Linked DNA regions of Homo sapiens. The protein of the gene in region 1 interacts with the protein of each later gene in a pairwise test. Each region holds a gene or a part of one and is shown on either strand. Other genes may lie near its edges.

Region 1 (7,452 bases):
TAAGTTCAAAAAATTTAGTCTTAACAGTAAATGTGCTTATCACAACATAAATAAATATTTATAATGATTTAAAAAATGTGTATTACTGGCTAGCACCATAAACAGTACAATAGATAATTCCAAAAATCTCTCTGAATAATTGCACTGACTATGATATTAGATTAAAAACTAGGTGCTGAACTTTCAACACTGTTTATTTAAGTAAAGTCTTTGGGCCCAAATCCACAATGCTGCAACACAAATAAAAGGGTTATTTCCTCAGCTACATTTGTGATCATTTTAATAATTTTAAAAGCATTTTCATTTAAGTATTAAGTTATAATTTACAGCAAACTAAGTCTCAAATATCACATTTTATGCTTAATTAGCATAAGAAATATAATACATCATAATATAACCTTTCCATCTTAATATAAAATATAATAATACAAAAGGGAGAAAAATCTTCAAAATGAACCACCTCTCCTATGCTATTAATTTCGCTAATAACTGTAAAACTTTGTCCCCAATTATTGAAAAAAAAAGAACTTACAATTATCATTAAAGGTGAAATAATTGCTACATCATGCATGAACTACCCCCCAAATCCGGTGAAATAATAAGCTTAGCTATAAAGGAAAGAAATCCACTAATGAGTGTTCACTAGCACAGGCACATTTATGTTTTCGGATTTAGCATATTTTCAAACCATCTGGCATTAATGCCTCTCTGGTTCACCCAGCCTAATCTGTTCAGAATTGAATATAAAACCAGAGCTACATGAACATTGAGGAAACCAAAGAACAGCACACGTGCATAAAATGTTCCAAATGTAAAGTTCTAAACTAGTTTCTATTTGAACTGTATCTTTAAAACATTTCCATTGAAGACGTTAAAGCTCTTTCGAAAATACAAGAATGGTTCAAGAAATCTCTATGAATCATCACTATCATCAGTTACCCAAGTATTACCCTTTCTCATTTTAATCCTGATTGTCAAATAAGGCGTCTGAAGAGGTACTTCAACAAAAAAGATTCATTGATAACTGAAATGCTATCATTTTATATCGAAAAGGTCCACGATTATACATTTTACTTTGTATAAAATTAGTCTGCTTAGCCTTAACATGCTTTGGGAAAGGAGAGAAAAGCTAAAAGGAAAAAAATATTCATGAAAGCCCTTTTTCTTTTATGTCCTGTTACCGCATTATTGTCATTGGCAGCACTCACATTTCTTTTGCTTAAAATCAGGAGTCAGAATTGCTACTTTAGAAATTAAAATAATCGATGGGTATACTAGGGCCAATTTCCCTGTTAAAACCAACTCCTGCTCACCTTCGCTCCCGACATAAAAACAAATGACTTTTTCAGAATAATTTTTCAGAAACGAAGATAATTAATGTAGCACCATATAACACAAATTAAAGCTTTCAGACAAAGACTGAGAAACAATGACCAACACCAGCAAATCTAAAGTGCTCTTATATATGTATACACACAACACACACACACACCCCAAACCAAATATTCACTGTTCCTGGGGGGAGACTGCTTCTTCCTCCCTAACCGTGAACCGCTGTATATTTTCCAATTTTGTGATTTTCCTTTTTCTGCTATCACATTAACCTCCAAGAGAACTGCTTAAGTTACATGGAATCCCAACCTAATCACATCACGACTTCTCTCTCAGCCTTTACATTTTTCTCTCAAATATTAGCTCTTCGCATTTTTTTTTTTTTCTAATAGCTGGGCTGAGTTGACAGAAAAGGGCTGTGGAATTCCTGCTCTGTCCGATATCTTCCCTGTATTCCTCTTTTCTCATCCCTAGTCTCTGTTCTAATTCCCCCGCCTGCTGTCTCTCATTGACGCCTTCCCAGCTGCTGGATCCTTCACTAACCTAAGCTAAGGATATCAAATGGAATCTTTTCCTTCTCAGGGGCTATGCTCTTTCCTTACAGTTACCCACGGAGGAGAGAGGACAGGAAAGGTACTAAAACAAAGAATTGCCAAGTCCCTTTACCTCCAACTTTGGTGTAAATATATAAGGAAAGGGGATCTGCCAGGGCTCTTCTTTCCTGCCCTTAGACCTTGTTCCTCTCACACCTCTCCTTCCCAGCCTTTTATACCCCTTGAGGTATTAGTAGATTGTTCACTGTGGGCCCTAAGGCTTGGAGGATTCCCATGGGTCAGCCCCCACACCCCCACGCCCCTACCATCCTCTTTAATTAACTTCTCCCTAAATCCCAGGGCTTCGTCACAATCGTAATATGGTTCTTAAGGACTCAACTCCCAGTCTTTCCCAAAGTTGGGACATGGCCTGGCCCCGAAACGGGTGCGCATAGCCTTCCTTGAACTGGAGGTAAAGACTTCTCCTGAAGGGTTTGCTGGGGCTCCAACCTCAGTCAGTGCGCTCAGCTCCAGCAAGAGAATCTCTCCTTACTCTCAGGGAGACTGGGTCCCCCACGAGGCAGCCACACGCCCCCGGAGGACAGCGCTCCTGACCTCCTCTAGGACTCCCAACATTACTGGGGTGCTCCCTCCGGCGGCGCCCTCCGCTGGGAATACGCAGTCTTCACTCCTCTCAACAATCCTAAGTTGCTGGGTCCTCACCAAGGCAGGGGGCTGAGATGTTCCCTCCAGAGAGCCCCCCGCCCCCAAGCTCTTTCGGTGGCGGAGACACCCAAAAAGAGCGAGGGAGGCTGTGGGTCTGTCTGTCCCTCTGCGGCGACTACCCAGCCGCGAGGCAGGCCCCGTCCCTCCCCCTCGGACGCCCCACGCCGGGTCCACCCCGCCACCCGCCGCCGCGAGCGGGCTCAGCCCCAGGGGTCTCTGCTGTGAGGCTGCCCTCCTCCCGCCAGGCCCCGCGCTACTCGCCTTTCCCGTGCCGGCCGCGGACTCTGCGCTCCAGTTCCCACCCGCAGCCCAGAGTCTCCGGGCCCGCTGGTCGCGGAGCCGGCTCGCGCCACTACCTGCAGGGGCCGCCGCGCCTCTCAGCGCCACGCCGCCGCCATCTTGCATTTCAAACCGGCTGCACTTTTCAGGGAGTCAACTCTGACCTGTGAACCCTAAACCCGGAACCGCTCGGCGGGCCCGCAAAGGGGCCTCAGCAGCTCGGTGGCCCCGCGGAGTGTGGGGACTCAGGGTGGGGGTGCGAGGAGAGGCGCGCGCCCCAGCGGCCGTCCGGGGGCGGAGGGGGAAGGGAGAGAGCCGGCCAAGGCGGGGCCCTCCCGCGCGCGCGTCCTCCGCGCGCCCCCACCCCGTGCGGCGCCGAGCTCTCCACGCCCAGACCCTGCTACTCCACTGGGGTCCGACCCCGGCCCCTAGTCCGGGGATTGGCGCACCGCGGGAGGTAGGGAGGCGCCCCGCCCCCCTGTCAACAGAAGCCCCGCCCCAGACTGCGGAAGCTCCGCCCCCTGTCAGGAGACGCCCCGCCTTCCCAGGGCTCGAAATGGCCCCGCCCTTTGCCTGCGACCGCTCCGCCCGCTGTGGACTGAAGCCTGGTCTTCTCTCGGGTCAGCACAGAAGGCAGCCCCGCCTTCCTTGCGCTCCGCCTTCCTAATGTCACTGCTGGATCGTGAGAGGTAAGCATGCTGGCTTCTACTGAAACGCCCCTTGTCATCACACGCCCATCCCCTGGGGCGACACGACCCAGGCCCCGCCCCTCGGGGGGCTGCTGCGAGTCCGGCCGGGAGCCCAGCGCCCTGACAGAAGTCGCCGCGCCCCTTGTCAGCGGCAGCTCCACCTCTCCTCGCTTCGGACCCCGCTCCTCCGCGGGCCGCAGCTCCACCCGCTGACACCGAAAGTTCAGTTCAGCTGCACTCAGAACCGCCGGGCAAGGCGGAGCCGCCCTCTGCCCCTCAGCCGCCCTCCTCCCTGCGAACCGCCACTCGCTCTTCCAGAGGCTTCTGTCCGAGTCGAGGGCTTCACATCCCGTCGGCTTTCAGGGAACCAGCCCCGCAGCGGGGCCAGCGAGGGCCAGGGGTTTCGGGAACACTGCCCGGCGTCTCCGCCCCTCCCTACTCACTTTCCCTTTCCCCCGCACCGCGGTCAGAACGTGGAGGAACAGAACCAAAGCGGAGAGCGGCGACTCACCCTCCAGCTGCTCCACACGCCGGGCCTTGGACGCTCGAGCGCTCCTGGGCCCCTTGACGTTCACTCCCCACCCCCATCCCAGTCGCGGACCCTTTGTGCAGAGCTCCGCTGAGCCACAGTAATCCTAAAAGCACAGCAGAGCTCCGCTGAGCCACATTAATCCTAAAAGATGCAATTGCTTCAAGTGGAAGTCTGATTTTTTTTTTTTTTTTGAGACGGAGTCTCGCGTTGTCGCTTAGGCTGAAGTGAAATGGCGCGATCTCTGCTCACTGCAACCTCTGCCTCCCGGGTTCAAGCGATTCTCCTGCCTCAGCCTCCCGAGTAGTTGGGATTACAGGGGCCCGTCACCTAACGCCGGGGTAATTTTTGTATTTTTGGTAGAGACAGGGTTTCGCCATGTTGGCCAGGCTGGTCTTGAACCCCTGAACTCAAGTGATCCGCCAGCCTCGGCCTCCCAAAGTATTGGGATTACAGGAGTGAGCCACCGCGCCTGGCCGTGGAATCTGATCGTTGAAATCAGTGTTCTACAATATTCTTTTTATTTGTAGGTTTCATCCTGGAATCCTAAAACTTGTGTAGGATAAGGCTTAATTTTATAAGCAAAGGTATTCAACCCTGCCACATTCAATGCCCTGTATTTACAACAAAAAATATAACACTGCTTTACTCTTCTGGAGTTAAATTCCTAATGCAAACTATCTCTACAAATAATTTCAAGAAACCAATGTAATGTTCTAATAAAGGTGAAAAAGGAGAAAGTAGTTCATAATAAAATACTGTATGTACTAATATCAAGAAAAATTTTAAAATAACAGAGTTTTCACAATGTAAATACTCTGCCACCAATAGAATGCAAAACAAAAACTGTCCCGGCAAAATTTCAGTATGCCCCTGAGGGGCAGTACTGCCCTCGCTGGGAACCTCTTTAGACCGAGGAAGAGGTCTGGAAATGCTTCAAATAGAGAAATTCATTCTTTTGTCTACACAGTTAATGACAAGTTTTCTTTTGTTGTTGTTGTTGTTGTTGTTTTTGAGACGGAGTCTCGCTCTGTTGCCCAGGCTGGAGTGAAATGGTGCGATTTCGGCTCACTGCAACCTCTGCCTCCTGGGTTCAAGTCATTCTTCTGCCTCAGCCTCTTGAGTAGGTGGGATTACAGGCGCGTGCCACCACACCCGGCTAATTTTTGTATTTTTAGTACAAACGGGGTTTCACCATGTTGGTCAGGCTGGTTGCGAACTCCTAACCTCGTGATCCGCCCTCCTTGGCCTCCCAAAGTTCTGGCATTACAGGTGTGAGCCACCACACCCGGCCGATGACTAGGTTTTGTGTGTGCCAGTATATGCCAGGCACTGTGGGAGATGTACAGCTGAGTTAGTCAACTTTCCTGTCTTCCAGGAACTTACAATCAAGTAGCCAAGCAAAAAACAGGAGCATAAAGATGTGTCAAGTGAAAGATGAGAAGAGACCCCTTTAGGGATGTGGAGCTGTTGACTGTAACTTCACATTTTACCCCCACTTCCTCCCTCACTTTATTCTTCCTTCTCCTCTTCTACTTTAGCACTAGTTTATAGAGTCACCTCCTCCTCCCTATAAGCTGTCTCCCTGGTTCACTGCCCAATGCCAGCCATCCAGAATTCTCCCAGTTTAGGGTCATGCCCACAGGGCAATTCTGTCCAAGAAAACACAGTGCTGAGAACAATGTCCTTAGCTGAATTGCTGCCAATTACTTGGTATCCTTCTACAAAGCAAGACTGTTATCATCACCACTCAAAAAAAAAAACTGGTTGCAGACTTAAGCAATATGAATATATGTTTAGCATAGCAGATTGTGCCAGCCCACATAAATCTGCTTAGAGATCAGGCTCACAGAGTAACTTGTTTTTATTAAAATAAATTCATTTATAAAAATTGTAAATATGATGGATTTTAACAGCTGCGTGGCTCCAGGAGTTTTTTTTTTTAACCATGGATTGGCACAATTAGAAGTCTAGATTTTTTTTATGCATATGTTTTGCAGTTTGTCATACTCAAACTGGTATGGCAAAACTTCAGTACTCTTAGAGATAGAAGTTGTTCAGCAGGTTTTAAAAAGCACAGCACTTTTGCTATTCAGAGCCTCTTCCACCTTTGGAACAGTGAAAAAAAAATATTGGTAGGAAATGAAGAGCTTTGGATAAAAAGTTCTAAGCTCTGGTGTCATCTGAAGAGGAATAGGCTTCCAACAGCACTTTTTGTAGTAGTTCCCTTCTGTTATTATTTTTCCTTTTTCCACTTTTTGTGAAAAAGTCTTTTTAAAAACATGATACCATGAAATAGACCAGCCAAAAAGACATCAAACTAAGACACTTTAAACTTTTGACTACAGTTAGGTGAACTTAAGAATTTAGCCCTAGTGAAGTGCTCCCACTATTTTCTGTAATGGCTACATTAGAAGGTGAACAAAAATGTTCCTACTAAAACTAGTTCAGGCTGAATAAACTTTCTAAGACAGTTTAGGGGTCAAGCCATTTCCTGTTTCTCTTAGTGCTTGCTCTGTGAAAATAATAATGTTATTGGTAATAACAACAGTAAAAACAAGTCAATATTCTTGGTACTTGTAAAATTCCTTCCCACTCCACTCTTTCCCTCTACTTCTAGCATAGGACCATATATAGTACTACAGGACTATAGATGCAAAACAAGAAAAACAGAGAGGAAAACTGATTTTCCAGTATTCATTCAAAGAGTAACACATTGATACACTTTATATTTTAATCATAGTGTCATCTGGGTTGATTCATTCATTGGTGTGTAACTCTATATCCACCAAAACTTAGTGTCTTGGCCAGGCAGGGTGCCTCACGCCTGTAATCCCAGCACTTTGGGAGGCTGAGGCAGGTGGATCACAAGGTCAGGAGATCGAGACCATCCTGGCCAACATGGTGAAACCCTGTCTGTACTAAAAATACAAAAATTAGCCGAGCGTGGTGGCATGTGCCTATAGTCCCAGCTACTCAGGAGGCTGAGGCAGGAGAATCGCTTGAACCTGGGAGGCAGAGGCCGCAGTGAGCCAAGAGCGCACCACTGCACTCCAGCCTGGGTGACAGAGCAAGACTCTGTCTCAAACAAACAAACAACCAAAAAAACCTTAGTGGCTGTATCAGCATGACTTCTAAGGAAAAAGTGGCAGTATCTATTTTTTAACATAAAAATGTAGCATACAAATAACCCTAGGGAACACTCCTCCACTAGAAAGCAATGCTAGAGTGAGAAAATGCAATAATTCACTGTGTTTCAGTCTTTGCAGAGAAGTCTAAGTAGCAGTCCTTAAACTTTAATGTTCATGAAAATTATGGAGAACTTTCTTTAAAAATAGATTCTCAGACCCCACTCCTGGAAGAG
Region 2 (6,896 bases), on another chromosome or scaffold:
AATAGCCTTTAATCATTATCCTCAGTTTCTATCTGGGAAAACTGAGTGCTATTTTCAAGCAGTCTTCCTGCTAGTAGTGGCAAGAATGGAGACATAAATCCATCCCTTTTGATTCCAAAGTGTTATATATTTTGGCTGTGCATGGTGGCTCACACCTGCAATCCCAGCAATTTAGGAGGCCAAGGTGGGCAGATTACTTGAGGCCAGGAGTTCAAGACCAGCCTGGCCAGCATGGCGAAACCCCGTCTCTACCAAAAGTACAAAAATCAGCCAGGCATGGTGGTGTGCACCTGTAGTCCCATCTACTCAGAAGGCTGAGGCAGGAGAATCACTTGAACCCAGGAAGAGGCGGAGGCTGCAGTGAGCCGAGATTGTACCACTACACTCCATCCTGGGCGACATAACAAGACTCTGTCGGGAAGAAAGAAAGAAAAAGAAAAGAAAAGAAAAAAGAAAAGAAAGAGAAGGGAGGGAGGGAATTAGTGACCAAAAAGAAAATGACATGATCAGTGTTCTTTTAATCACTCACACCTGAGAATCAAATTCATTAACAGTCAACTTGCGCAGACCGTAGCAGGTTTCACCCCAGCCTTAGGGAGTTTATTTTTAAATGCACGGCCTTGTGCATAGTTTTTCCTCGAATATGTATTTCACAAGTCCTTCCCACACCTTCCCTGGTGAGAGAAAGCAATTAAGACTACACAATGGCATGACTTACAGAAAGCAATTTATGAAAGGTAGCCTCACTAATGTTTTGCTTCCAGGCTTTTCGATAGGGTGTTCTTCTTGCCTGGAATGCTTGTTCCTCCTCCACATTCACTTCCCTTTGCCTAACTAATTGCTACTTCTAAGTGACTCATCAGCATTGATCTCATCACGTTCTTCAGAAACCCTTCATTAGTTCCTCAGCACTGGATTCGGTGACCTTCCATGCTCTCCCAAAGCATCCTGACTTCACCCCTACACCAGCCCCACCTTTCTGTATTATCACTTTCCATTGGCTTGTTTATATTCCCCAGGAGCAGGCCATGAGGCCCGTGCTAACATACAAATAATAATATTCATTATGTATGTACTTCCAATCCCTAGCAAAATGCCTGGAATTTAGGATGTTAATAAGTATTATTGAATGAATATCATGTATCATTGCTAATATTTTAAAAAACATATCTACACTAATTTAATGAACATTTTCTACCCACAACTATAGGATATAAAATACAAATTGAAGTATACTGGTTCTTGATTATCTGGCGATCTGACCTCAAGAAAAACATTTAGCTTCTCCAGAGGGTCTTCGTTTATAAAATAAGAATGTTGAAGTAATTATCATCTAAGATCCATTTACAGCTCTGAAGTGCCAATCTTAAATATTACTTCAAGTAGATGAAGATGAAGAAAATTAGCATAATGAAGGAAGGCATTATATAAATTGGATTGTTCTGAGCTTCCTGATGAAATTCTGTCCAATTTTAAAGGAAAAGGAAATAGTTGACTTCAAAAAACTGTTTATAGTTTATCATTGAAAAATAATAGGTCTGCTGGTTTACCTCTGATTTGAAATGTCGTAAATTAATAGGTCTAGAGAGAGCTAACGTCATATTCAGAAATCAACCTTTGCAGACCTTCTGGTTGAAAAAGTATTTAATAAGCATGAAACTCTGGCTGGTTCCTTAATAATATTATTATTAACTATTTTGTCAACATCTGTTAAATGTTGGCTATGTGCTGGATGTGGTTGAGCCTGGAGCTAGGGTGTTACTGTCACTTTTGGGGAAGAGGCCATTTCAGAATTATGAAACCAACATTTTACCACATTTGAGTCATTTGCAATGTGCATTCTCTTACAGCTACCAAAATACTCCTGTGGAAAGAGGGCAACATTGCTTTCTCAAAGTTTTTACAATCTTTTAGATATAACCAAGGCAAGAAAAATTCCATCCTTGTTAATTAGCTAGCAGTGAACATAAGAAATCAGAACATTTAATAAATATTTAAAATGAACGAACAGAAAAATTCTTGAAGGAACATGTTTAAGAAAAAAATAGCCAGATACATGATTTGTAATCTCACTTTTACAAATATATCCAACACTAGTAAATACTCTTCTTTAGTTTTGCTTTGTGCTTTTCTAAGGAGTTTTATGGCCATTAGCTCATGCAACAATCAAGTGGAATAGCTGTTGGAGGGCCTCACTGACATTCCCCTAGGATAATGTATCTGACACTACCCAGAAAGTATTTCCCTTCTTTTTAGGTTTTCCAGCCAGCACTTGAAAAGACTGTATATGACACAGAGCCTACAAGAAAAGGAATGTGGCCACACCCTCTTTAAATGAAAAAAGTAATAAGCGGACCTTCTTATTTTAAATAGCATAAGCAAATATAACATATATTTTTAAATGTTTATTACAAAGAGCATGATTAGCACTTTGAGGTCTGAATCTATCTTGTTTTCCTTACAAAAGAAGAAAATAAATTATGAAAGTCCTACTATTTTGAAACAGTTCCCTGCAGCCCACTCCTATCACTTTTGTTCTTGCCCCCAAAAAGCAGCCCCCATCACGATTTCTCTGTAAAACACACAGCTCTTGGGAAGAAATATTTCAAGGGGAAGGAAAGGAAAAACACATTCTTTTAAGGCTACCAGAGGGAAAGCACATTCTTCCCTTCTTTCTCATGGTAACTTACCAAGAGTACAATGAGCCAGTATTAAGCAAACTTATCTTATTTTTACTTGTATTTGTTAACTAAGTAGAACAAAAATATTGTAATTTGTGATTCCTAAAATATAAATATCCAATGTAATTCTACAGAAAGATTTATGAATGACTTATCATGTTAAATGCAACTAACCATAAATCCTGTAGAAGCAGTAACATTTAACATAGTGATGAGAAAAGTTTTCAAAACAACCAAAACTAACTAAAAGGAAAACCAAGACTTACCTTTATCTCTACCTTCTTGCAAAGAACTAAAGAGAAATTCTTCTCTGAAGATTTCACACTGGCAGTGGAGACTTGGGCTTCTGATTTTATAGGATTTTAAAGGAAGCCACACCTAGCAACCAGAAGTTAGTAATTGGCTGCCTTCTGTTTGAAGTACATGGCTCAGCTATGTCCAAAAACAAAGTGAAACAAGTCTTGCAAAACTACTCACTAAACCAATTCAACTGGCATTACAAAGGAAAAGAAATGGAAGGGCTGATTTTTCCTCCCTCTTTATTTTGCACTTTTATTTCCAGATGGGATATTTATTTTGCACTTTTATTTTCAGAGTATACATCTGCCCCAATCCTAATACCAGTGATTGGCACACTTTTGTAGTTAAATAGGTTGTAGACTAAAAAGTATGTTACCTTCAAAACTAAACAAACCAACAAACAAAATATTACATTTGAATTCCACCTCCATCACTTATTATTCTGTGACTTTAGGGACATACTTAATTTTTCTGAACCTGTTTTTACTTTTGTTTTGTTGTCTTTTTCCCCCGCTTTTTGTGGAGAATGGGGTCTCGTTATATTGCCCAGGCAGGTCTCAAACTCCTGGGCTCAGGCTATCCTCCTGCCTCTGTCTCCCTAAGAGTTGGAATCACAGGCGTGAGCCACCATGCCTAGCTGTTTTTACTTTTGTATATAGGAGCATTATCTAAGTTGTCTACCCACTAGAATTCTTGTGACAATGGAGAAATAACATATATTTGTAAATTTTAACATTACACAGTGCCGAATAATTTTCTATTTATATTTTTCTTGCCTTAAAAAATAAACGACTTTTGTTCCTAGATATAGCTTGTTGTTATAAATAAGAAATATAGAAGTAATAAAGTTCCAGATTGGCTCAAAATTTTGAACAAAGGTAATGCCAAAAATTTGATCATTATGACATTCAATAAAAGCATTGACATCAGAAGGCCTATCTACATTAATTCTTTTAAATAGAGTCAGTTACATAGAACTATATATATAAACTGTAATATAGATCAGTTATATATACATTTTGATACACATCTTTGACATTGTAGACTAGTTGAACACCAAAACAAGGAACTAGACCTATAAAATGAAAGGATTAATGGAGCAGCAACTATTACAGAACACATTCCATAAGAAATTTCCCACCCAATGGAGGAAAATTGGTTCTGGTAACTTCCATAGTGGTTCATTTTCATTCTTCTTTAAACCCTACAAAGTATTATATGATGTTTCCATTAAAGTGCACAGGTGTAAAATCTCACAGCATTATGGCTCAATTTATGCTGCATTTAGTGGTTTGTTCTTTTTCCTCTTTTCCTCATAGATATTTCACATAAAAAACATGAAGTTTAGGAAGTTAATGAAAATACTTTCTAAAGATTGGCAGTATTTTATAATACATTCTAAGTGCTCGATGCCAATATCAATGAAGTCAACATATCCTGAAGTAGGATGATCATCTAATCTAAATATTTAAGAAAATGTCAATATATGTTTTTACTATCATATGTGTAAGTTGAAAATTAATTAGTTACCTGCTAACAAGTTAAGTTAATTGATATTATTGCAAATTGATCTTGACAGATGTAGACTAACTTTCTAATACCATATTTATGTCATCAGGTGAGAAGGAATAAGATGATTATACAAAATCTGGTTTTCTTTTTTTCTTTAATTTGCGTTTGTATTCCTAACTCTGGTAATGGAACTATTGGAACATTCCTGCACAGTGATGCTCTTGTGAAATGAAGAAAAAATTCCACTTACTTTTTATAAAATATAACAACCTAGAAAACATGTATAGTCTCATTTTGCTTTGTTGCTGCTATTACCAGTGCCATAAACTGAATGGAATTATTTTATATGTTTGGATTTGTAATACATAGGCAAACCTAAAATAGCAACAATAAATATGATAATTGTAGCAGAATTAAGAAAAAAAAAGTGAAAAGAATGTTTTTCCAAAATTAACTTCCAGCTGTAACACTAAAGGCAAGTGAAACTCCCAAACATAACACAAAAAGAAAGCCACTAATCATGTAGGTATATTGCTGTGAATAATCTGTCAGAATCTTTTTCTCCGCATAATAATAATGTCGAGTAGATTTATGGAAATAAAAGAACAAGTAAAATATGTTATCATTAACAGTGAGGGGATAATCATGGGTTAAATGCTTTCTGTGGGTGAAATGCCACATACTCCAGAGAAATGACTCACCACTCTTGCTGTTTCTAGAAGATGATGATTCATCGGCTCCACTTACTTTACAAACAGAGAAAATAAAGAAAGAGAAGGAAAGAAAAAAGACAGTTAAAATCAATCTCTATATGTTACGTTTTTCACAGCATGTTTATTTTCACTCATTTGGTTTAGAATCTGATAGTGAAGAGGAAACAAAACAAAACAAGGAGAGGAAATATGGAGTCTCTCACATACATCTCATTGTGCATAAGACTCTTGCAAAATATCTGATCTTAGTAAGCTGTCCCCTCATCCTTTACATTTAACTCTATCTAAGCATTACTTGTTATATGGAAGAAAGAGTATATTCTGAATGATCAAGAACAGCATTTCACAGATATTCCAAAATCTCCCCACAGCTTCCTCATACCCCCTATCCACAGCCAACAAAAATCATTATTTTAGTGTGTGTTTCTCATGTGTCCCCAGGTCAAAGCATTTTGAGGGCTAACATTCTAAATGTTTTCCCTTTGCCTCTAAACATGGCAAATAATTATCACACACACACTGAGTTATTGAGATTATTATTATTATTATTCCTCAGTTATTCACATGAATTAAAGACAGAATTTTTTTTCAAATTTTACTCTTTCAGGTTAATGAAGTAGTCATGTGGGTAGCTAGAGCCAAAGGGAGGTACCTTTGTTGGACTTCACTTAGGGAAAAAGATCTTACCTCCCTGCCTCTCTATATTTCCTTTTGTGGGTGGAAAATCTTAGAGAAGATAAAAACTCAAATTTGGTGGTGGCTTAGTATCTATTACTGTGTGACTTAGGAAAAGTCAGCGAATGACTTGGTGATTCAACTAGTATACTTCCAACATCAGGATCATGCTAGGATTAGTAATTTTGTATTGCACAAGTTATTTTGTTTAATCCCTGAGTATAGTATCCATATCCCTCTCTATATTATTCGAAAGTAAGAGAATAAGACCTTGTCACATTCGCTATAATAACAAATTTTACTTCAATAATTTTCAAGAAGTTTTGCAGAAGGAAAATGAAGATATGTGTTAAGGTCAAAAGGTCAAACTCTGCTTTCTAGGTTCCAGCTGTTTTAAAATAGTCTGGCAGTTTCTTACAAAGATAAACAGAGTCTTACAATGCAATCCAGCAATTGTGCTCCTAGATATTTACCCAAATGAGTTAGGAAACATGTTTACACAAAAACCTGCACATGTATGCTTATAGCAGTTTATTCATAATTACCAGAAATTGGAAGCAGCTGAGATATTTTTCAAGAGGTAAGTGAATACATGGACTATAGTACGTTTATGTAATGGACTATTACTCAATGATAAAAAGAAATGCTTTTAAACCAGGAAAAGAAATGAAGGAATCATAAATGAGTATCGCTAAGTAAAGGAAGACAGTATGAAAAGGCTATGTCTGTTTCATTCCAATGAGATGCATTCTGGAGAAGGCAAACTATAGAGAAAGTAAAAAGATCAATGGTTGCCAGGAGTTGGTGGCAGGGAGGAGTAATAAATAAGAGACTTTTAGGGAAGTGGGCTGGGCATGGTGGCTCACACCTGTAATCCCAGCACTTTGGGAGGCCGAGGCGGCGGATCATCAGGTCAGGAGTTCAAGACCAGCCTGACCAACATGATGAAACCCCATCTACTAAAATACAAAAAAAAATTAGCTGGGCGTGGTGGTGCACGCCTGTGGTCCCAGCT

Evidence for each region. The genes of interacting proteins can lie anywhere in the genome.
Region 2: the proteins of ZHX1-C8orf76 (region 1) and ANXA1 interact in binary tests that used the Homo sapiens proteins (3 or more experiments, as listed by UniProt).

The regions. Positions count from the first base shown.
Region 1 is NC_000008.11:123,271,270-123,278,721, forward strand, and holds the start of ZHX1-C8orf76 (zinc fingers and homeoboxes protein 1), read right to left. Parts: upstream 3,018-7,452; 5' UTR 2,948-3,017; exon of another isoform or gene 2,853-2,947; intron 1-2,852.
Region 2 is NC_000009.12:73,147,976-73,154,871, reverse strand, and holds the start of ANXA1 (annexin A1), read right to left. Parts: upstream 3,008-6,896; 5' UTR 2,948-3,007; exon of another isoform or gene 549-2,947; coding exon of another isoform or gene 530-548; intron 1-529. UniProt on the Homo sapiens protein: Plays important roles in the innate immune response as effector of glucocorticoid-mediated responses and regulator of the inflammatory process. Has anti-inflammatory activity.